Linked DNA regions of Homo sapiens: all the other regions are linked to region 3. Evidence: fine-mapped expression QTL. A gene starts in region 3. Each other region holds a variant in brackets. All regions are shown on one strand. Distances are between the middles of the regions. Region 1 overlaps GPRC5D-AS1 (GPRC5D and HEBP1 antisense RNA 1). Region 2 has its middle 12 kb from the start of FAM234B. Region 3 holds the start of HEBP1 (heme binding protein 1).

The links. PIP is the estimated chance that this variant, and not a neighbour inherited with it, causes the effect.
Region 1: its variant is fine-mapped to the expression of HEBP1 in whole blood (TOPMed, PIP above 0.99).
Region 2: its variant is fine-mapped to the expression of HEBP1 in whole blood (TOPMed, PIP above 0.99).

What each region holds. Positions count from the first base shown.
Region 1 is chr12:12,959,631-12,967,609 of GRCh38, forward strand. The region is part of intron 1 of GPRC5D-AS1 (GPRC5D and HEBP1 antisense RNA 1); the gene reads left to right. Among named protein-coding and RNA genes, the nearest start is that of GPRC5D, 11 kb to the left of the region's middle. The variant C/T (reference allele first, on the strand shown) is at 2,912.
Region 2 is chr12:13,028,162-13,036,140 of GRCh38, forward strand. No RefSeq gene overlaps it. Among named protein-coding and RNA genes, the nearest start is that of FAM234B, 12 kb to the right of the region's middle. The variant G/A (reference allele first, on the strand shown) is at 3,791.
Region 3 is chr12:12,996,317-13,004,295 of GRCh38, forward strand. HEBP1 (heme binding protein 1) reads right to left here and starts at 3,949. Exons shown (of 4, transcript NM_015987.5): 1 at 3,721-3,949. The coding sequence starts at 3,798. The region is part of intron 2 of GPRC5D-AS1 (GPRC5D and HEBP1 antisense RNA 1); the gene reads left to right. It also overlaps the pseudogene HTR7P1. RefSeq lists silencers at 3,814-3,963, 4,014-4,133, 4,894-5,043 and an enhancer at 5,468-6,013.

The DNA.
Region 1 (7,979 bases), 37 kb before region 3:
ATTTTGTTCAGATATTGGAGCTGACATATCCACTTACCACACGTAGTCAAAGTCCTGGTTACCATGAGGAAAAATACTCAAAAATAAGATTTAGATTTTGTTAAACTGAAAAACTATCTCATCTGGCAAATATTTTTGAACATGGTATTTGGATAGTAAAAGTGCACATTTAGCTGATTTGGGGGCATTATTTTCCTTTTTTTTTTTTTTTTTTTTTTTAAGACAAGGGTCTTGCTCTGTCACCTGGGCTGGAGTTCAGTGCTGCTATCAAAGCTCACTGCAGCCTGAAACTCCTGGGCTCAGGCATAACTGGAAATACAGGTGCACACCACCATGCTCAGCTAATATATTTTTTTTAATTAAAAAATTTTGGCTGGGTATGGTGGCTCATGCCTGTAATCCCAGCACTTTGGGAGGCCAAGGCTGATGGATCACAAGGTCAGGAGTTCAAGACCAGCCTGGCCAACATGGTGAAACTCCATTTCTACTAAAAATACAAAAATTTGCCAGGTGTGGTGGCAGGTGCCTGTAATCCCAGCTGCTTGGGAGCCAAGATCGCGCCACTGCACTCCAGCCTGGGACAGAGCGAGACTCCATCTCAAAAAAAAAATTTTAGACTGGGTGTGGTGGCTCATGCCTGTAATCCCAGCGCTTTGGAAGGCCAAGGTGGGTGGATCTCTTGAGGCCAGGAATTCGAGACCAGCCTGGCTAACATGGCAAAACCATCTCTACTAAAAATACAAAAATTAGCTGGGTGTGGTGGTGCACACCTGTAATCCCAGCTGCTCAGGAGGCTGAGCCACGAGAATTGCTTGAACCCAGGAGGAGTCAGAGGTTGCAGCGAGCCAAGATCATGCCATTACACTCCAGCCTGGGTGACAGAGCAAGACTCTGTCTTAAAAACAAAAACAATTAAAAAATTTTTCGTGAAGACAGAAATTCACTATGCCAGACTGGTCTTGAACACCTGGCATCAAGCAATCATTCCGCCTCGGCCTCCCAAATTGCTGGGATTACAGGTGCGAGCCACTGCACTCAGCTGTACGATACATTTTAAAATGTTAAACACATTTAAGGAATCTAAAAGGCAGCAATTTTAAAAGGTGGCTGTAAGTATCACACATTCCTCCCACCGAGAGGTGGGGTCTATCTAATTCCTCTCCACTTGAATCTAGGCTGGCTTTAGTGACTCTCTTGTAACCAATAAAATGTGGTGGGAGTGAGGATGCGTGAATTCCAAGGCTAGGTGAAAATTAGCCTTGCAGCTTCTGCTTTGATCTTTTGGAATACTTGGTCCAAAGGCTCTTCCTAGGACACAGCTGCTGTGTTCTGAAAACCCCAAGCTACATAAGGGACCACATATAGATTCTCTGGTCAATAGTACCAGCTGAGCCCAGCCTGCTAGCTATCCTTGACAAAGCACCAGGCACGTGAATGGAAAAGCCATCTGGGAAATTAATCCTCTTGTTCCAATTCTTCAATTGAAACTCCACTGAGCAGAATTTATGTTTATGTCTGTATGCAAGAATTATTCACATTGCTATCAGTTTTCCATATGTTGACTTATATTTCTACAGAGTTTTAAAATAGCCTAGTCAAAATCAAAGGCACATATCCCTATAGGATCAAATAATCCCAGAGGCACCAGCATTCCAATGAAGGGATGTTCATTCCTAAGTCTTAAAATTGTCCTTATAAAGGTCATAATTATGCTGCTGTATGTTCCCAACATTGCTGCAACACATAGAAGAGAACATTATAAAATCAGTTTGAGAAATAAAATTCGAGATATTGCTACATCTCATTTTTCTTTCAAAGTCACAATTATTACTTTTCAGAAGAAAATATGAAGCTTGAAAGAAAAGCATTTCAATAAAAGGTCTATTTTCTTTTCAAATCTCTGAATCAATAATTGAATTAAACCTGGTGAACAAAGAAGAGAATAACTGATTGTATTTAATTCTTTTTTAAAATTTATTATTATTATTTTTTTGAGACAGGGTCTCATTTTGTCATCCAGGCTGGAGTGCAGTGGCATGATCTCAGTTCACTGCAGCTTCGACTTCCTAGGCTCAAGTGATCCTCCCACCTTAGCCTCCCAAGTAGCTGGGACGACCATGCCTGTCTAATTTATGTATTTTTTGTAGAGATGAGGGTTGCCATGTTGCCCAAGCTGGTCTTGAACTCCTGGGCTTAAGTGATCACCTGCCTCGGCCTTCCAAAGTGCAGGGATCATAGGTGTGCCCCACCACGCCTGGCCTGTATTTAATTCTTATACTGAAGAATGATTTAAAGACATCATGTATATTATGTGGGTTAAGATTGAAGAAAAATTTCAGTGCTACTATCATAACTGGTGTATTACTATTGTTAACAATTGCTACAGCCTATTTGTGTGAATTTTTAGGATTTCAACTTTGACTGGATTCTAAAAAGAAAAAAACTAGGTTGAACAATGTATCAGATGTACTTATTGCCTCAGGTAGTCCACAGAATGAATTTATAAATGCTTTAGCATATCTGTCCACTACATAAAAATCATGTCTACATTTCTGTTTTGTGTTATTTTGGATTTTCATAATCTATATAAATATCAATAAAATAATATGTGATATTAGCTTTGCTCTGCTTTTATTTTACATTGGTAGCAATGGTAAATATTATTTTGTGAAACGTTTGAGGGGTATGTGTATGTATGTGTGTGTGTGTTTGTCCTGGGTTGAATGTAAAATTATTTCTGACTGGGGACTAGGGTAAAAGAAAATTTTGAAGCCAGGCGTGGTGGCTCATGCCTGTAATCCCAGCACTTTGGGAGGCTGAGGCAGGCAGATCACCTGAGGTCGGGAGTTCGGGACCAGCCTGACCAACATGGAGAAGAAACCCCCTCTCTACTAAAAATATAAAAAATTAG[C/T]TGGGTGTGGTAGCGCATGCCTATAATCCCAGCTACTCAGGAGGCTGAGGCAGGAGAATCGCTTGAACCTAGGAAGCGGAGGTTGTGGTGAGCTGAGATTGCGCCATTGCACTCCAGCCTGGGCAACAGGAGTGAAACTCCACCTCAAAAAAAAAAAAGAAAATTTTTTTTTGAAAATACTAGTCGCATCAAATGAGCACTGGCTTGGAGTCTGACTTAATTTTGGATGCCTGCTCTCTGATCTTGGGCAAGTTTCTTGATTTTCTGAACTTAAACAAATGTTTCCTCTTCCCTGTGGCATATTTACAGAAAGGAAAACCATCAATGATGGTTTTCAGGTAATTTGGTCTGAGCTGAGTTAAAGGGTTTTGAAAGCAAAGTGATGATAAAAACCATATCTGAGGTTAAGAAAGAGTGCAACTTACTTAAGGATTCTAACAAGTTTATTTTATTGTTTTTATTTATTTATTTATTTTGAGATGAAGCATTGCTCTGCTGCCCAGGCTGGAGTGCAGTGGCGTGATCTCGGCTCACTGCAACCTCTGCCTCCTGGGTTCAAGCAATTCTCTTGGCTCAGCCTCCTGAGTAACTGGGATTACAGCCACATGCCACCACACTTGGCTAATTTTTGTATATTTAGTAGAGATGGGGTTTTACCATGTTGGCCAGGCTGGTCTCGAACTCCTGACCTCAAGTGATCCACCCGCCTGGGCCTCCCAAATTGCTGGGATTACAGGCGTGAGTCACTGCACCCAGCCAGGATTCTAACAATTTCAAAGGATTTTTATATGTAATTGTCAACATGCAAATTATTATGTTAAATTCAAGTGTTAAGTCTACATATTAATGTAGCCCATTTATTTACTCTTAGACTCTCTCCCTAGAAATGTATCGTTAGTGTTCATTCATCTGCTTGTTCTTTCTTTTAATGACTTTTTTTGAGCATCTATTTTGTGCTGAGTGCTGTGCTTGTGCTTGAGATATTACAGTGAACAACACTCAGGGCCCCCTACCTGTGTTTAAGTTGCTTACCTACTGGGTGGGGTGGAAGGTAGGCAGGTAATGAAAACATCATTAGACATTCAGCGTATTCTGTGGGTTCATAGGCGCGAGGTTCAGAGAAGACCTTTCAGGAGAAATGTCTAAGTCAGGTCAAGTGAGGTGTAGGAGAGCTCTGGATGGAGGAAGCAGCCTGCACAATGTCCACAGCAAGGACGACCACAGTCTCTTACCCAAATAACAAGTGGGTGAGTGTAGTGGGAGGATGGATAGGTGAGAGAGGAGGAGGAGGCCCTGTAGCCAGATTATCCAGGGAGGGTGTGGCTGTTTTGAGGGGTAGTATGAATGTTATTCTGAGAGTAACTGTCTTTATTGTATTTAAGCTATAAAGTGCATTACAGTTAATATTCACTCATTCATTTACGCAACACATTTTTAGGGGCATCCATAGCTGCTCATTGTGCTTAATGCTGTGGATATAGTGGTAAACAAAGCATGCACAGTTCTTGGCCTCAACGAGCTTACAGTTTGGTGGGAGAGCAACCAACAGAAAAATAAAACGTGTGCATATATAATCACTAGTGTGAAAATGCTGTAAAAGATGTTGTGGTAGAGAATAATAGAGTGAGGGTCCCTCTGACAGGTTGGGTGAGGAGGGCCTCCCTGAGTAGGCACCATTTAAGCAGAGACCCAGAGGATACGAAAGATCCAGCTGTGCCCATGCAGAGTGGGAGGAAGAGCATTCCAGGTGGAGAGGGCAAGATAAGCAGGAGCCCTAAGATGCCAAAGAGCATGGTGTGTTTGAGAAATAGAAAGATCCACTGTATCTGCAGCAAGGAGGGGAGTAGCAAAGAATGAGCATGGAGTAGGAAGTGGGCATCAGATGATACAGAGAGCTTGAGTCCCAGGGAGAGGAGTCTGATGCAACAGGAAACCGTGAAAAGGTGTTAAGCAAGAAAGTGACAGCTTCTACTATAAAGATCAATCTGCTTCAGACTGTCTAATGCACGATGGAACACCAGGCATTGAGAACGGATTAGAAAAGACCAGGGTAGGAAGCAGGAGACCATCTCAAGAGTCCGGGTGAGGCATGATGGTGGTTATTAGTCCACCAGGGTTGGGTGGAGTGATGGAGAGAGACAATAAGATTCAAGAGACACTTTGGAGGTGGAATCTCTGTCTTGCTCGTGGTTGGGAGACAGAGAATGAAGAATGGCTCCTGGAACCCTAGATCTGCTCCACCAGCCCAGATTTTTTGCATCTCAGTTAGTAGCAAAGCCATTCTTCTAGCTGCTCAAACCAAGAATCTTGGTGTCATCTTGAGTCCTCTCTTTCTTTCATGTACAGTCCACCAGGAAATCCTTTTGGGTCTACCTTCAAAATACCACGGACTCTGACCACTTCTCACTACTTCAGTGACACCATCCAAGTCCAAGTGACCATCATCTCTTCTCTGCTTGACTGCAGGAAACTCCTAACCGGCCGTCTGCTTCTGACCTCATCCCCCAGCCCCAACCCCGACCCCTTTATAGTATATGATCAAAAGAGCAGCCAGAGGGATTCTTGCAACAGTGGGTTTGATTTTGTCACTGCTCTGCTTGAAATCCTACAATGGCCTTCTCTATTTTATACAGAAGAAAAGGCAAAGCCTCTGAAGTGACTTCTAGGTCTTTACCAGACCTGCCCACTCCTGTCACCTCTCTGTGCTTCCCCTGGGCTCTCTGTTTCAGCCCCTCCGACCTCTAAGTTCCTTGACCACACAGGCCCGCCCTGTCCGACAGCCTTTGCGCCACCTAGGATGGGCTTCCCTCAGGTTGCGTCTGGCCAACCCCTCACTATTTTCAAGTCTTTCTTCTCCAGGAGGGCTTCCCTGGCCACATCAGCAGGAACTGCACACCACCGCCTCCATACTGACCTCCCAAACACTGCCCATTCTCTTTGGTCTACTTTTAAATTTTGCCATTGCACTTACTACTTTGTAAGATATAATATAATATACTATTAAAATTTACATGTCTATTATTTGTTATCTATATACCCTACTCTACAAGGGTAAGGATCTTTGTTTTGTTCGCTTATAAACGGAATTGCCTAGGACAGTGCTTGGCATACAGGAGAGGTTCAATACATGTGAAATGAATGAACATGAGAGGGAATCATGAATGTGTTAAGCCAGAGGGTGGGCCAAACACCACAAACAACGAGGTGCAGGCCAAAGCCTGGTTAATAGGGAGGAATTATAGGCAGGGGTCAGCAAAATGCATGTGGCCTTCCAAGTTCTCACTCCTGGCCAGGCAGGGCTAGAGGCACTGTAGGTTTGTGCTCCAGGAGACATCCCCACTCTTTCCCACCCATCCCTCCACTTTACGTAAGAGAAGTTAGGGGGAGACAGGAAACAGCTGGCTGCCTGATCAAGTGCAAATGTGAGGTTCCCAAGGAGGGGGATGACACTGTTGCCCAGAGGAATATTCTGAGCTCAGATGATAGTCACATAGGGGAGAAAGATGATGCCTGAGGGCCGTCCAGCTAACAAGGAAGATGTCTGTCTATTCAGGGTGATTTTGTGTTTTGATCTGAGCACGTAGTTGAATGGTAGTGTTATTTAGAGATATGGGGAAGATGGAGGCATGAAAAGGAGGGTGGAAAAGTGTGCAGTGAGAGTTCAGTTTTGGACGTGCTGTTTGAGGTATCTGCAAATTCCTTGTATGAATATGTCAAGTAGGTCACTGGATATATGCATCTTGAACATCTGGATTTATTTCTGCATTTTTGTACTTTTCTTCATGTGCCAACTTCCTGTTGGCATCCTAAGCAGGTACCAGGCTGGTGCCACAGTCAGGACACCCCTCTCCATCCTCATTCCTCACCTTTCTTTCAGCAATTTCATGAATTGGGAAACACATTCATTCATTTATCCATCCCACAATCATACACCAAGCTTTCACTATATACTGGTACACAGCTGGGAACTGAGGCTACAAAAATAAATAATACTAAATATCAGCACTCAAGAAAACCACGTCTAATTGGGGCTGGTAAATTAAACAGTTGAGATTTATGCACTGTGAAGTATGTGTAACTTGAAGAAGAAATTAATATTTCCCTGACCCTATCTCTCTTCCTACTAGAAAAAGACCCCAAAAAGAGGGTGGATCTTATCCATTCCTTAGAAGCCCTTACAAATGGCACTTTTACAACTTTTGTTATGTTTATTTTAGGTCAGGAGCAATGGCTGACGCCTGTAATCCCAGCATTTTGGGGGCCTAATCGGGCAGATTGCTTGATGCCAGGAGTTCGAGACCAGCCTGGCCAACACGGTAAAGCCGCGTCTCTACTAAAAATACAAAAATTAGCCAGGTATGGTGGCACACGTGCCTGTAATCCCAGCTACTCGGGAGGCTGAGACACGAGAATCATGAGATTAACTTGAACCCAGGAGGCGGAGGTTGCAGTGAGCCTAGATTGCACCACTGCACTCTGGCCTGCGTGACAGAGTGAGACTCCGTCTGAAAAAAACCCAGAATTTTTGTTACGTTTTTGTATCAATGAGGAATTGTTCAGTGTATGTCTCAGCAGTGAACCCATTTCTTATTTCCGCATACCTGAGGGTGACATTTTGAAAGGAGATGAGATGAAGAAAAAAATTAAGAAGAGAGATGGGCTGTAAATAAATAGGAGTCAATAGGTCATGGATGGTCACAGAACCCATGTGCACGATTTTCATGGTCATGGATGACCTGCTGTTGGGAGTGGGCACAATGACATGATGCAGCCAGTAGAGGGTAGAGAACCCTGTCCTGGGGACACCAACATTTAGGGCTGGGCATGGAGAGATGCGCTTATGAAAGAAGTGGGGAGGTAGTCTGAGGCAGGTGCACCTGGAGAATGGCAGGTCACAGGTACCAGAGGAAGAATACCAGGGAGAAGGAGAGGTCTCAGTATTGAACAGTACAGAGAAGCTGTTCAGCCTGATAAAGGCCAACTATTCTGGACTTCATGATGATCAGTTTCAGAGAAAGTAAATGTCAATGAGTGGAGGAAATGAGGGGGAAGGATGTAAACACTCTGT
Region 2 (7,979 bases), 32 kb after region 3:
AATAAGAACATACTTCAGGTTTTTCAGGCCAACCAATGTAGAAAAACATGAAGTGAGTTCTGTGATGAGATAGGTTGAAGTAACCCCCAGTACATTCACTTCTCTAAAAATAGCCATTTCTTTCATGACAAAATACCTATAGAAAAATAATGAAAATTGCCATTCTTGGTCTTTAAGCCTCTACTAGTGGAAATGGAAATTTCCTCAGCTTTTAGAGTCCATATCTAAGGTCTTTAAAGACCTAAAGCCCATGCAGTGAGAGAGAAAACATTTGTGAGAGGCAGGAGGAATTAACTCCATAAAGAAATACCTCTCTAGGGAATGTAAGGCTTGATTGCAGAAGTAAATATTAGCCTCAAAGGAAAACCTTTTGCAGTAAAATGACAAAACTTCATGTACTTAACGCAAAGGGAAGGGGAATTTCTTTTTTGTTTTGAGACAGAGTCTTGCTCAGTCTGGAGTCGCTCAGGGTGGAGTACAGGAGTGTGATCATAGCTCACTGCAGCCTCAACCTCCCAGCTCAAGCAATTCTCCCACCTCAGCCTCCTGAGTAGCTACGATCACAGACATGTGCCACCACATCTGGCTAATTTTTTTCTTTTGTAGAGATGGGGTCTTGCCATGCTGTCCAGGCTGTATTTTTGATAAAAAGAAGAAAATAACCTTAAGCAAAATTTCCTAAGAACCCTGCATCAATATTTCAGGCATTTTCAGGGTTGATGTATGGAGCAGGGATTTGGCCTTGCTCCCTCTGGCTTCAGAAGACAGCATCAGTTCTCCTGGGAGGCAGTCACAGGTGTAGTCTCCAAGCCCTACAACAGTGGCTATCTGCCACGTGCCCTGAGCTCTGGGGAGCTGAGAATGTCCCAGCAGAGATAACATGACTGAGGATTAAAGAAGCAGTTGCTACTCGTTGGGGATTAGATTTGCAGACCTCTGAGATCCGTTCCAACATTGAGATCAAATGTTATTAAAAGAAACAACCACACACACACAAATCTCCTTCAGCAGGGCTGAAATGGGACCTGGGTAGGGGTGAGGTGGGGTGGCTATTTGGGGTGGGAAGATGGTAGGGATGGGGGAAGACCTGGGGAAGTGTTTCTAGCAGAGCCTCATCAATAGAAACAGTTTGGTTTCAAATGCATAGCTAAATTCACCAGCATGTGGTTGGGGCAGGTTCCCCAAGGAGAGAAACAGGGAATACCAGGGGCATGCTTCAGTCAATTGGCATTGCAGCCACTGGAGGGGACTTAGATTTCAAGGAAGACACCCCATAGCGTGGCATTCTCTGAGGCATAATGCTCAGAATTAGGGCCCCTTTTGTGTGAGGGCTGTACTGCTTGCTCTTCACTCTGAAATTGTCATTCTGGATTTACTGAGAAGGCATGAAATTAAAGTTGGTAGGTGAACAATACCTCTGGCAAATACATTGTATTTAGGAGTAAAGAAGATTTTTGTTTCTTATTCCATCTTAAACTAAATGTTTACCAAATTTTCTCCTTCATTTCTTCACTTAAATTAAAACTGAAGAACATGTAGTTTTTCAAGTACCAGAAACTGGGAGAGATGATAGATCACCAATGAGATGAATATTTTAAAACCTGAGTAATAATGTAATGGAAGACAGATTGAAAGTTAAATTGTTATTCTACTTGGAAAGAATTATGTACTAGGAAACTAAAGGGTAATACAATTCTTCAGTGTCTAATATTTTAGCCCCCGTTTCAAGGTGAAAGAGAAAAGATGTGTACAGATTTTCTCAATAAGAAAACTCAATTGTAAGTTTTTACGGCTGAGAAAAAAAATTCGTAGTCTTAAAGAAAAAGTTTGGGTCACATGAAAGTTCTTTATGAGAAACCTATTTGTCTTACAACCTCTATTAGTGAAGGAGGGAGTAGCTTTAGGTAAATAAAATCTCTGGAATAAGACAACAGAGTTTCATGATTTTCAGGCCAAGACGTAAAAAGAAATACAGAAATAAATATTTTTTTTCATTGAAATAAGTAACTTTATGCACAATCTCCTGAATAAAAGAATAAAATCTGAGATTTTTGAGGCAGAGGGTGATGGAGGGTAGGATGAAAATAAAGTATTTGTGATGGTAATAAGAAAATAGCTTCACGTGAATCTCTCTAAGAATCCTACTTAAAAATCTTTAAGGTATTGACAAGGGAAAACAAAGACCCAAAAAAAACCAAACAAGTCTTTAACTCCAGGGTAAAAGAAAGAATGAAAATGAAATGTCTAATTTCATGGAAAGGTAACTCCAGGCAATATCATCTCTCTAAGAAATTCTCCTGGGTTTCATTTTTAGGCTCTTCCAAAATTAGGACAAGAGCCCTTTCTTACCTAGGCTGTACCTTGGTTCTTTTGATCTTGAGATAGAAATTTCAGACACGAAGGGACAGAGGCCATTAGAGAATTTCTTATCACCTTTATCCTCATCATACAGTACCAGGTATGACCCTCGTGGCTCCTGTCCTCTGCCTGAAGAGGACTTTTTGAAGTTTCCGGTGGTCTTTGGCCCACATGGGGTGTGTCTTTGTTCATCAGGACATGGATGAAAGACAGGTTGCCAACCCCTTGCAATTAAGTGTCTGCAGGCACGAGCTCGTGACTATTTCAAGAAGGATTGCTTTTCACTTCAAATATATTACTTTGTTCAAAGCAGATCCTGTGGGCTTACAGAGATATCACATCTTATCCTCTACTTCATTTGGTTCACCGAAGGACAAGTGTATGCCTGTCCTCTTAGAAACAGGAAAAAATACAAAGCACAATTTCTCAGCAAAGAGGGACTCCTCATGGTGAAGTTGTTAAACAAAAAAAAAAAGGCGACGTTTTCCTCTTTGTGTCAGATGTGCAGCCTGGCTTTTGGGAAGAGGTTTATAAATCTTGCAGTGCCTTGTTTAAGAACAATAATTAGTAATGGTCTGTTAATCCCATCTGCTTCCCAGAAGGAGAAAGAGTCACTACAGGGATGGATTAGGGCCTCTCTCCAATCCTACGTAGGGACATCTGCAAAGACTCTCATAATAGATGTTAAAAGCTTGACTAGAGAAGAAGAAAGTTGCCTTAGAGAGAATCTCTAAGGTAGAGCAAGAAGTAGATAAGATAATACTACTGGGAAAATCTACTATATAAGAGAACAAAACTTCACATCTACTAAGCAGAGATAAATAAAAGGAATACTTATGATTACTGAAGGTTCAGGGGACTCAGTAAATTAATACCCATCTTCTCTGCATAGCTCTGATTGATCTGGGAATAGACTGAAGAGATGGACAGATGGAGATAAAATATCAGCTTCACTATTGAAAGAAAGCTACGCTGAATGACATGGCTTAGATCTGTTGTAAAAGGGGCTTGCAAATTCTTTCTTTGAATTAGAGAGGTGTACCCAGGCTAGCACAGCAGGACAACTGCAGGCCCTTAAACCACAGCAGAGTAGAACAAAGTGTGTGCTCTCTGTAGGCAGGCACGTTACTCTTTAGCCTTTTCTTCCTTGATCTCTCTGTGGCATTTAAAATAATTGACTATGCTTTTCCCAAAAACACTTTTTTTGCTTGGTTTCAGGGACAACAAACTCTCCTGGTTATCCTCTGACCGTACTGGCTATGCCTGCTGCTTTCTCTGGCTGGTTCCTCCTCTTCTCCCTGAACTGTGAATGGTGAAATGCTGCAGCGTTCACGCTCCCCTCCCCTCCTGCATCACACATGCTTTCTGTGATCTTATTCCATTTCCCAACTTTAAATATGGGTTATGTGCATTAGCTACCAAATTTACTATC[G/A]AATCTACCAAATGACTACCAAATTTATATCTCCACCTAGGACTTCTCCCTGAACTCCCAAGACTCATACATGCAACTGCCTGGTCAACATTTCCACTTGCATGTCCAGTTGGATGTTGAATTTGACACATCCAAAACCAACCCCTGATGTCTGCTTCCCATCCCACTCCTCTCTCAGTTTTCCCCTTCTCCAATCTTCTGGTTGCTAGGTCAAAAGACTCACTACGGTCCCTGACACCTTTTTCTCTCATGCCATACATTCAGTTCTTCAACAAATCCTGCCGGCTCTACCTTCAAATTAAGTTAAGAATCCTACCACTTCCCCCCACCCTCAAAGAAACTACCCTAGTCTAAACCACCATCAGTTCTGGCTTGGGTCATTGTAATAGTCAAAAGTGATTCATCACTGCCAGTACCCCCACAGTCTGTTCTCAGAACAGCAAAGTGATCTCAAGGAACACTTTTAAAATCTAAGTCAAATAAACACTTCTGTGCCTCAAGGCTTTCAAAGTCTCTCTATTTAATCTAGACTAAAAGCCAAAGTCTTTATTTTCCCTACCAAGTCTACAGAATCTGTTCCTACTCTGGCCATATCTGACCTCATCTAATCTCTAATCTCTCCCTAGAACCATCCTTTCCTGGCTGGGCGCGGTGGCTCCCACCTGTAATCCCAGCACTTCGGGAGGCCGAGGCGGGTGGATCACTTGAGGCCAGAAGTTTGAGACCAGCCAGGCCAACGTGGTGAAACCTCATCTCTACTAAAAATACAAAAATACAAAAATTAGCCAGGTGTGGTGGCAGGTGTCTGTAATCCCAGTGACTCGGGAGACTGAGGCAGGAGAATCGCTTGAGCCTGGTAGTTGGAGGTTGCAGTGAGCGGAGACAGCACCACCACACTCCAGCATGGGAAAACAGAGCAAGACTCTGTCTCAGAAAAAAAAAGAAAAAAAAAAAAAGAAGAAAAACTATCCTTTCTGGCAGCCTTTTTGCTGGTCTTCGAACAGGACAGGTATGCTTCTGCCTCCAAGTTCTTTTTATTCATGATGCCTCTATTAGATCTTTCTTCCAATATCATCCTCTTACTGAAGCCTTCCCTAACCATCCTATTTAAAATTGGACATCTGCCCACCACTCCCTGCGACTTCCACATTGCATCTCCCCTTCTCTATTCTATTTTTCTGTAATACTTATCACCATCTGACACAGCATATATTTTACTTAACTATTTCTCTTCTCTGCTTGACCTCATAGTTCCCACAAACATACATGATGTGGACAAGGACTTTTGTCTGTTTTGTCTGGTCTGACATCCCCAGCATCTAGAATAGGGCCTTTCAGTAATGACTGCTCAAATATTTGTTGAATAAATAATTTTATTTTTTATATTATATTATTTTATTTTAGAGATGGAGTGTCACTCACTCTGTTGCCCAGGCTGGAGTGCAGTGGTGCTTACTACAACCTCTGCCTCCCGGCTTTGACCGATTCTTCTGCTTCAGCCTCCTGAATAGCTGGGATTACAGGCGCGCCACCATGCCTGACTAATTTTTGTATTTTTAGTCGGGATGGGGTTTCACCACGTTGGCCAGGCTGGTCTCAAACTCCTGGCTCAAGTGATCTGCCTGCCTTGGCCTCCCAAAGTGCTGGGATTACAGGCATAAGCCACTGCATTCAGCCTGGATAAGTAATTTTAAAAATGAATCAGTGAATGAGTCTCAAGGGGAAGCAGCTATGCTAAGCATGACCTGCTTCCTTCCTTTGAACACTAGTCAGGAGACTCACAAGATACTCTAGTGAAAACCGTTCCACATGGGAATCTGAGGGTTGGGGAATAAGTATTCCCCTAAAAAATGATGAGGAAAAATTTATCACAAAATATCTTTTCAAATCAGACCAGTGTTGTTCTTTAAGATTGCAGAAGTGGAAAAAAGATTAGCTTCATGCAAAATCTCTCAGGAGAAGAATAAAACTAGGGTTTTAAAAATTGAGTCAGAGAAAGAAAGAAAATGATTTGTGTTAGGAAATACCTTTCAGAAAAATCTAAACAATCCTCCTTTGGTCATTAAGGCTGGGGTAAGAGACCAAAAATTAATCATTTGATTAAAGAATAAAATTCCCAGATCTTGAAGACTAAAATATAAAAGGAGAATATTTATGGTAAGAAAGAAGAAATAGAAGTGAGTGAGATTTTATGAACTGGACAAGTAAAAGGTAGCTTTTCATACAGAGGTCCTTGAAAAGTTCCAGAGCCTTTAGTTCCTTAAAGATAAACTCTTGGAAGGAATAAAACATAAAAGAAGAAATAAAACTATTTGCGGTGGCAAAGGTAACAGTAGATTTATTTGTCTCACAACTCTCTCTAGTTTGTGGTTACATGCACATTTTTAGCTCTGCCATTGTGATTATTCCTCTCAGAACCTCAACTGGGCCAGGCATGGTGGCTCACACTTATAGTCCCAGCTACTTGGGAGGCTGAGGCAGGAGAATTGCTTGAGCCAAGCAGGTTGAGGCTGCAGTGAGCTGTGATCGTGCCACTGCACTCCAGCCTGGGCAACAAAATTAAACCCCATCTCAAAAACAAAAAACAACAACAACCAAAACAAAACAAATACAAAAACCCTCAAATGTCATCCTAGAGAGAAATTAAGCCTCACATCAAACCCCAGGTTGACAAACCATGCTTGCTTCCAAACCCAGAAAGCTGCCAGAAGTTAAAGATGATCAGGTTTTATTAGATTATCTTGGAGGCAAGATTATAATGAAAAATACTTAAGAAGTATTTTTTGGCTGGGCGCGATGGCTCACGCCTGTAATCTCAGGATTTTCGGAGGCCTAGGCAGACGGATCACAAGGTCAGGCGATCGAGACCATGCTGGCTAACACAGTGAAATCCTGTTTCTACTAAAAATACAAAAAATTAGCTGGGTGTGGTGGCGGGCGCCTGTAGTCCCAGCTACTTGGGAGGCTGAGGCAGGAGAATGGCGTGAACCTGGAAGGTGGAGCTTGCAGTGAGCCGAGATTGCGCCACTGCACTCCAGCCTGGGTGACACAGCAAGACTTTGTCTCAAAAAAAAAAAAAAAAAAAAAAGAAGTAATTCTTAGGTCATTCATAAAATTACATTAAACAATGTGCTTCAAATAAAGAAAGCTGAAAGTGTTAACTCTGTAGGAGTGAGACTATGGATAGTATTTAGCATGATTGTGTGTTAGGGATAATTTATTTTTATATTTATTTATTTATTATTTTTTGAGACGGATTCTTGCTCTGTCACCCAGGCTGGAGCGCAGTGGCGTGATCTTGGCTCACTGCAACTTTCACCTCCTGTACTCAAGCAATTCTCCTATCTCAGCCTCCCAAGTAGCTGGGATTACAGATGCCACCATCATGCCCAGTTAATTTTTGTATTTTTAGTAGAGACAGGGTTTCACCACGTTGGCCAGGCTGGTATCCAACTCCTGACCTCAAATGATCCACCTGCCTCGGCCTCCCAAAGTTCTGGGATTATAGGCGTGAGCCATCGTGCCTGGCCTATTTATTTATTATTTATTTTGAGACAGGTTCTTGCTCTATTGCCCAGGCTGGAGTGCAGTGGTGCAATCATGGCTCACTGCAGCCTTGACCTCCTGGGCTCAATCAATTCTCCTGCCTCAGCCTGGGGCTACAGGTGTGTACTACCACGCCCAGCTAATTTTTAAATTTTTTGTAGAGTGGGAAATCTCCCTATGTTTTCCAGGCTGGTCTTGAACTTCTGGCCTCAAGTGATCCTCCCATCTCAGCCTCTCAGAGTGCTGGGATTATAGGTGTCAGCCACCACAGCTGACTGATAATTTACTTTTATATAGTATATCTCAACTGATGGCTGTTTACCTTCCCTTCATGATAGCTCAATTTAGAGGGAGTTTATTTCCATATATTATGTATTGGGCTGTCACCTAACGCAATGGTTCTAGATAGCCCTGGCATCTCTCAGGGGAGAAGAGAGCCAGGGAACCTCAGTGTCTATATGATTTGGTTCAGTCCCCAGGTGAAAGCTGATGGAGGCTGCAGGAAGACAAGCTGTTGGGGTGGCAGGAATGTGTCAGGGTGGGTATGGGTGACTGTCTCATTTGCAGTCAGGCTCGCAGGAGTAGAAACAGGAGTTCTGTTAGTCTTAATAGTTTGTATAATAAGAGAAAAATAAACAGTACC
Region 3 (7,979 bases):
TCTGATTAAGGATGTCAGTTACTAATATCAGTTCTGCTGTGAGCATCCAAAGGCCCACCCAATCCAACACAGAGAGCTGTCTACCCTCCTCCCTCCCTGAGCAATTAAGAAGGCACCTGATAAGGTCTGCGGCAGCACTGGCCTCCCTGCCAAGTACTTGGAATCAGTCCCCAACATCTGGTGAGCCTGAAGCCCATGCTATGTGGGGAATATGGTATGCCATCATTTGCCCAGGAGAGTGGACAATAGTTTCTGACCCAGGCTGTTTCCAGGATAAAATATAATTTCAGGGAGAGGTTCTCTTCAAAAATAATACCTTTATGTTTGTATATTTAAAAAAAAAAAGGTTTACAAGTATCTATGCATAATTAATTAATTTCACATTGGCATTGTTATTCTCATCTTAGAGTTGAGGAATTCAAGGGCTCACGGGATGTTAAGTAATTTACCCAAACTTTACTGTAAAACTACAGTAAAGCTAACCATTACCATCTCCAACCAAGTACTAACATTGAACAGTTTTATAATTGGTTATCTCATTTGAACTTCAAAACAATCTATTAATATATGAACTATTATTTTCTTCCACAATTAGCTTCAGAGGGGCTAAGTTGGCCTGTGACCACACAGCTAGAAAGAATGAAGCTGAGATGAGCACTGATATAATGCTATTACTATATTTGTAGGGTATGTATACTACTTTACAAAATGTTTTCATGGTTTTAAAGAATTTAATACTTATAGTAACTCTGGAAATAGATGGAAAAGATATTTTTATACTCATTTTATAGCTGTAGAAACAGGTTCATTTGGGTTAAATGATTTGCTTTAGCCTGGTACCAATATCCCATATGGCCCCATATTCCCATCAAACACTGAGAGAAGATGCTTATTAGGGAGTTCTCCTTATCCCAGAGGCCCCAAATTAACGGCAAGTGACACTGTATCAATAAGAGTCAAACAGGAAACAGAAACTACTAGAGTATTTAGAGCAGAAGCACTTCGATGCAAGGGATTGGTTGCACAGATAACAGAGGGGCTGAGATGCCAGCAGGGGACAGAGAGGCAACCTAGAGGTTAGTAAGCACCCTAGGAGACACAGAGGGAGAATTACCTGTTACCTAAGTTCAGATACCTAGGTTACTGGGTAGAAGCTAGAATCATGGTGGCCTGTGTAGCGGAAGCCAAAGCCACAGAGAAGCTCCTAGTAGTATGGATCTGATGGGGTGGAGAAGGAGGAGAAATACTCTGGTTTCTCCCTTTTTATCTCCCAGTAGAGACTCCCACTGAGCAAACGTAGCTGGGCGCCGGCTGACATCTGGCCTGGGAAACAGGCCGAATGGGTCAGCTTCCACTCCACAGGAAGACAGCAGAGCAGGGAATGGGTGAGGAAGGAATCTGAGGGCACAGGCCACGAACCAGCCCAGACCCCTCTCCGCCTGTGTGGGCCATCATCATTAATCCAAAAAGACAAAGTGAGCCCCATTCCATGACAAAAGCAAGAACACATGGATTCTTAAAGTGTTAGAATCACAGGAACCTTCATCAGGGCTGTTAGGAGAAAGGCTGTGGTTCTGAGTAGGGCAACTACTTGATGGGGAGGCCAGTGATGCTGCAGACCTTATCAGGTGCCTTTTTCATTGCCCAGGGAGGCGGATAGACAGCTCTCTGTGTTGGCTTGGGTGGGTCCTTTGGATGCTCACAGCAGGACTGATATTAATAACTGGCATCCTTATTGCATTTGTGTCCAGCCTATGCACAACTATGTCAGTTTCCCTACTCAAAATCACAGCCTCACTCCTAATACTCCCTATTCCTCACTCCCCTGCTTGCTTTTCTTCACAGCACTGATCACTATCTGATCCATGATACATTTTATTTGTTCATTAGCCAATAAAACATAAGTTCCATGAGGGCAGAGAATTTTGCTGGTTTTAATCTTTTATCCCATTGCCTAGAAGAGTGCCTGGCACATAGCACTCAAAAAACAGTTTTTGTCGAATTATTTTTAAATTGGGTGATTTCGCTAAGAATCTGGATGTATGGTTTTCCTTAAGAATTTGGCAACACTGTTTCATATATCACTGCATAGCAACAAGTGGCTGGAACTGCCGTTTAGAGATGGGGACCTGAGTTCACTCTCTGATTTGCCTCAGTCCCCACTATGCCTTATAGCCTAAAACAGCCAGCTTCATCCATTTCCATTACCTGCCTGGTTGCTGCAGGTATTCAAATGTGGGACCTCTGATCAGGGCTAAACTGTTCATTCTACATAGAGCTGGGGAAACGGAGATAAGAACAGGTGAAAGGTCTTTGGTTGTCAAAGAGTTCAGATTAGAGTCTAATTGAGGGCTTTCGTGATATGAAGATCATTGTACTAGGTATCAGAACTTGGCCCCCAGGCAATACAGTCCTTTCACAAATGAGGCATCGTATTGGGAGCTCTGTATACAGCTGCACTGTTTAAACTACCTGTCCACCAGGAGATTATAATCTAGCAGCACTCTCCTTGTTTTCAGGGGTGCAGTCCAGTTAGCCCATGTTAGCACTGATATAAATTTGGGGGAAGACAGCAATTATGCTCTTCTCACTCATTCTGTATTCTAGGTACCCAACTCCAGAGGATCTAACTGGCCAAAAGCAATGGTACAGCTCTGGGCCTTTGTGCATGCTCTTCTCTGTTGTGTGCACTCCTACACATCCCTGAGGCCCCAGCTCAGGACACTCCACTGAGGTCCCCATCATAGCCCCCTGGCAGAATTGACTGCCTCTGTGCTCCCTGCGTAGCGCATTTATATCTATTCTGCACAGATCTTGTTCTTTTACACAGTAGTCCCCCTTATCTATAGTAGATACCTTCCAAGCCCCCCAGTGGATACCTGAAACGGTGGACAAAACTGAACCCTGTATCTACTACGTTTTTTCCTATACATACATACCTATGATATAGTTTAACTTTATCAATTAGGCACAGTAAGAGATGAACAACAATAATAAAATAACAGCAATTATAACAATATGCCAGCATTGCTAAGCTTGCACTTTGGGGCCATTACTAAGTAAAATAAGGGTTACTTCAATACCGCCACGGTCGATCCGATCACCAAGCTAGCTACTAAGTGACTAAGGGCGGCTACTAGAGATAGGAGGCTGACCTTGGACAAAGGGGCATTCCGGTCCCAGGAATCAAGATTTCATCCTGCTACGCAGAATGGCCGGAAACTTAAAACTTAGGACTTCTGTATTTCTGGAATTTTCCATTTAATAGTTATGGACAAGAGCTGACCACAGGTAACTGAAATCGCGGATAAAGGGGGCTACTATCCGCAGTTCTCTAGTACTTGGGAGTTTCTTGCGACACTCATTTCTGCAACCGAGTGTCTCTCAACAAATCAAACTGTTCGGAATGTTTGGAATATTTTAAACGAAAGAATGCATTCAACAGGCAGTGCCCAACTCCCCAAGTTGGGATTCTCTCCTTGGATCAGTCTCTCCTGTTTACCCCCCTCCTCTCACCACCGGCTGCAGGGGGACCTCTCACTCCTTTCCTTCCCAGTCCAAATGCTGGGCGGTGGAGAGCCGCACTCGCGACAGACACCAGAACGCACCTTCGATAGCACATTCCTGCCCCACCTGCCCCTCAGCACCCGCTGCAGCCCCGACGAGGGTGGGGGTGGGAGGCAGCAATCCTTCAGGTCCTCGGCAGCCCTGCGGGCCTACCTTGTCCCCTTTGCTTAGGACCTGCCAAGGCCACGTCTCTACGCTTCCGAACAGCGAGTTCTTGATCATGCCCAACATGTTGTAGCCGAGACGCTCCCGACGCACGGGAGGACGTGAGGTGGCGGGGGCGACGGAGCACCACGGGCAGCGACCACCGGCGGCAGGGCGGCAGGGCGGCAGGGCGGCAGGGCGGCAGGGTGGCAGGGCGGCAAGGCGGCGGGACGGCGAGGCGGCGAGGCGAGAGGCGGGGCTAGAGGCAGGGGCCAGAGGGCGTGGCTAGAGGGCGGGGCGGCAATTCAGCCCGGCGGTGAGGCAAGGGGGCGGGACGGCGAGGTGAAGGGGCGGAGAGAGAGGGCGGGGCGGCGAGGCGAGGGGGCGGAGAGAGGGCGGGTCAGTGATGCGAAGGGCGGGCAGCAGGGCAGCAGTGCAGCAGTGCAGCAGTGCGGTGAGGCGAGGGTGCGAGGCGGCTAAGCAAGGGATGGGCCCGCCGTGGCGAGCCGCTGGGCCGTGTTCCGCCTCCTTTCGGGCTTTCCGCGGGTGTCTGGGGAGGGAACCCGGCCGCGGGCCTCAGGCCGTCCCCCTCCGCAGACCCCTTCTCTTATTCTGAGTCTAACCTATCCGCTGGGGCCCTGGAAAGCGATTCTCGCCTGGAGTGGCTTTAGGCAGCGGTGGTGGGGAACGTCCTCTCTCAGGTGCCTGGGCTCCAACCTCCGAGCCCCGGGTTGCTCACGCTTCTCCGGTCCTCTACCCGAAGGCTCGATCCCGCTGGTACAGCGGCGGCCAGGCTCCCTGTCTTGGTAGCTGTCCCTCTACCCCCGCCCCATGACCTCTTCTAGACCATTGAAAGAGCATCCAAACCACTTTCCTGCTGCCACTCTTTCCTACCATCCCTCTAAATCACAGTTTCCAGGTGACTTTTCTAAGCATGGCTTTTCTCGTTCACTCCTGTTCAAAAATCTTCTCACCAATTTTGTCACCATTTACTCAGCTGAGTGCCTGCTTTCTGTCAAGTATTTTACCAATAAATCTCTACTCCACACCACCGACAAGAAATATTTTGGAGCCATTTAAAAAGGAGGAAACGGAAGCTTCTGCCGCTGCCTGATCCTCCATTGCTCCGAGCCGCGCGGGTGCAGCGGGCTGTGGAGCCGCGGGCCGAGCCCCGCCGGAGCGCCCGAGAGCCCGCGCGTCCCGGGCGTCCGTCGGGGTCCGAGGTCCCTCCCTCAGGGAGTCCCCGCTCGGCAGCGCTCTCGCGTTTCACGCAGCGGCCGGGGATCTGGGACAGGCGGGGCCCCGAGGCCGAGCCTGGCGCTGCCCAGCGGCCGGTGCAGGCCTCAAGCTGGGCCGGGCGGAGGGGAACCGGCGAGTTGAAGCCCCGGGGCCGAAAGCCGGAGCCTGTGGCGGCCGCGGGGGTGGGGAGGGGGGTGGGGCGGCTTCTTGGGCAGCGCCACACGGCGGCGCAGTGATGGATGTTAACAGCAGCGGCCACCCGGACCTCTACGGGCGCCTCTGCTCTTTCCTCCTGCCGGAGGTGGGGGGCAGGCTGCCCGACCTGAGCCCCGACGGTGGCGCCGAACCGGTCGCGGTCTCCGGGACGCCGCATCTGCTGAGCGGGGGCCCCCGAGGTGACGGCCAGCCCGGCGCCCACCTGGGACGCAACCCCGGGCAATGCCTCCGGCCGCGGGGAGCAAATCAAGAAAGGGCCGAGAAAGTTGTGATCGGCTCTGTCCTGACGCTCATCTCTCTGCGATCGCGGGCAACTGCCTGGTGGTATCTCCGTGTGCTTCGTCAAGAAGCTCCGCCAGCCCTCCAACTACCTGATCGTGTCCATGGCGCTGGCCAACCTCTCGGTGGCCATGGCGGTCATGCCCTTCATCAGTGTCACCGACCTCATCGGGGGCAAGTGGATCTTTGGACACTTTTTCTGTAACGTCTTCTCCATGAATGTCATGTGCTGCACGGCCTGGATCTTGACCTTGTACGTGATCAGCATCGACAGGTACCTTGGGATCATGAAGCCTCTCACGTACCCTATGAGGCAGAAGGGGAAATGCATGACGAAGATGATTCTTTCTGTCTGCCTTCTTTCCGCCTTTGTCACTTTACCTACCATTTTTGGTCGGGCTCAGAATGTAAACGATGATAAGGTGTGCTTGGTCAGTCAAGACTTTGGCTACACGATTTACTCCACCGCAGTGGCATCCTAATCCCCATGTGCGTCATGCTTTTCATGTACTAACAGATTTACAAGGCCGCCAGGAAAAGCGCGGCCTAACACAGGTTACCTGGCTTCCCTCGAGTGGAGCCAGACAGCAGTAGTCACCCTGAATGGCACAGTGAAGTTCCAGGAGGTGGAAGAGTGTGCAAACCTTTCGAGACTCCTCAAGCATGAAAGGAAAAAATATCTCCATCTTTAAGCGGAAACAGAAAGCAGCGACTACCTTGGGGATCATCGTCTGGGCCTCCACCATGTGCTGGCCGCCCTTTTTCCTCCTGACAGCCAGACCCTTCTGTCTATGGCACTGCCTGCAGCTGCATCCCACTGTGGGTGGAGAGGATATTTCCATGGCTGGGCTATGCAAACTCTCTCATTAACCCTTTTATTTATGCCTTCTTCAACTGGGACCTGAGGACCACCTATTGCAGCCGGCTCCAGTGCCAGTACCAGAATATCAACCAGACACTCTCAGCTGCAGGCATGCATGAAGCCCTGAAGCTTGCTGAGAGGCCAGAGAGACCTGAGTTTGTCCTACAAAACTCTGACTACTGTAGAAAAAAAAGTCATGATTCATGACTGAAAGAGGGATAATGGAGATGAAATAAACAAGGCAAAATAGAGGTGGAAACAGAAGAAAGTCATTTGCCAAGACTGCAGAATGGAATGCAGCTTCTGTCCTTTCTTAGGATGGCTAAAACGTGACAAACAGCATGACCTGATGTACAACATATCTTATGAGGGAGATGGTGACCTCTCCTTTTTTCTGTGGATCAGTGTTATTGTGTGTTCTCAGTTTAAGATAGCAGATCATCTCAGCAGTAAGCACACTGACAGAATTGAGTTCCAGAAAGGAAGCAGTTTCAGGTTCTTAGCACATGTCCAAATCCATGCAAGTGGGAGAAAGTTCCAATGCACACTTTCCATGCTTCCGAGTCTAGGTCTCGTGGTGAATATTCAGCAATCATTCATGAGAAAGAATGTATTTTGTTGTATGACAGAAGGGTTTACCAAGCAAACTGTGGTAAGCATAGTATCGAATATGTTGCATGTCCATTTTAGAAAACAGAGCCCAGTCATCAGCTAATACAAATGATTTCCCAGAGCAGTGTTTGTTTCAAGCTTCTGTCAAATAGTTTGGCTTTTCTGCAGGGTCCCTGTAACTTCCCCACAAATGTACTTCTTTGTTAATTCACTTATTGTTATGGTGTGGCTCAGGAACAGGTCTCAGGATGGAGAGCAGCATACAACCTGAACAAAGCTTTTTCTTGTGCTCTGAAGGGTCCTGAGACGTGAGGGGGATGCCTTCCATGAGGATTTTTATCTCAGTGAAGTGCGAGTGGTACCCACCTGTATTGTCATTAACATGATTATTGGCATGTTTTTGACTCTCATTTTTCACAAGGGTGCAGTGGGGCCATGGACCATCCCATGGGATGGTCCATAACTGTATGTTATATGGAAATAGTGTGGGAATAATGGGTTTTCCATGAAAGGTTGTGATGCTTCTGGAGATGGGGGCATAAACGTGTTCATTCTTGTTGAGCAGCATTGTGTTAAACCAAATTGTGTGAAGTGGAGGTCACCTGGACCACTCCTGGGAAATGCTCCAGAACACCAGTCTGTTCCTTCTAGAAATTTGTTCTCTGTATTTATTTTTATTTTTTATTTTGAGGCAGTGTCTCACCCATCCTGTCTCCCAGGCTGGAGTGCAGTGGTGCGATCTCGGCTCACTGCAACCTCTGCCTCCTGGGTTTAAGCAATTCTCCTGCCTCTGCCTCCCAAGTAGCTGAGATTACAGGCACCTGCCACCACACCTGGCTAATTTTCGTATTTTTAGTAGAGAAGGAGTTTCACCATGTTGGCCAGGCTGGTCTCAAACTCCTGATCTCAGTTGATCCACCTGCCTTGGACTCCCAAAGTGCTGAGATTACAGGTGTGAGCCACTGTGCCCAGCCTGTTCTCTGTATCTTAAATCAACTCTGTGCCAAAGCAGTTCTGTCCCCTGACTCCCACCCCTACCCACCAAAAAGTGGTAGACATG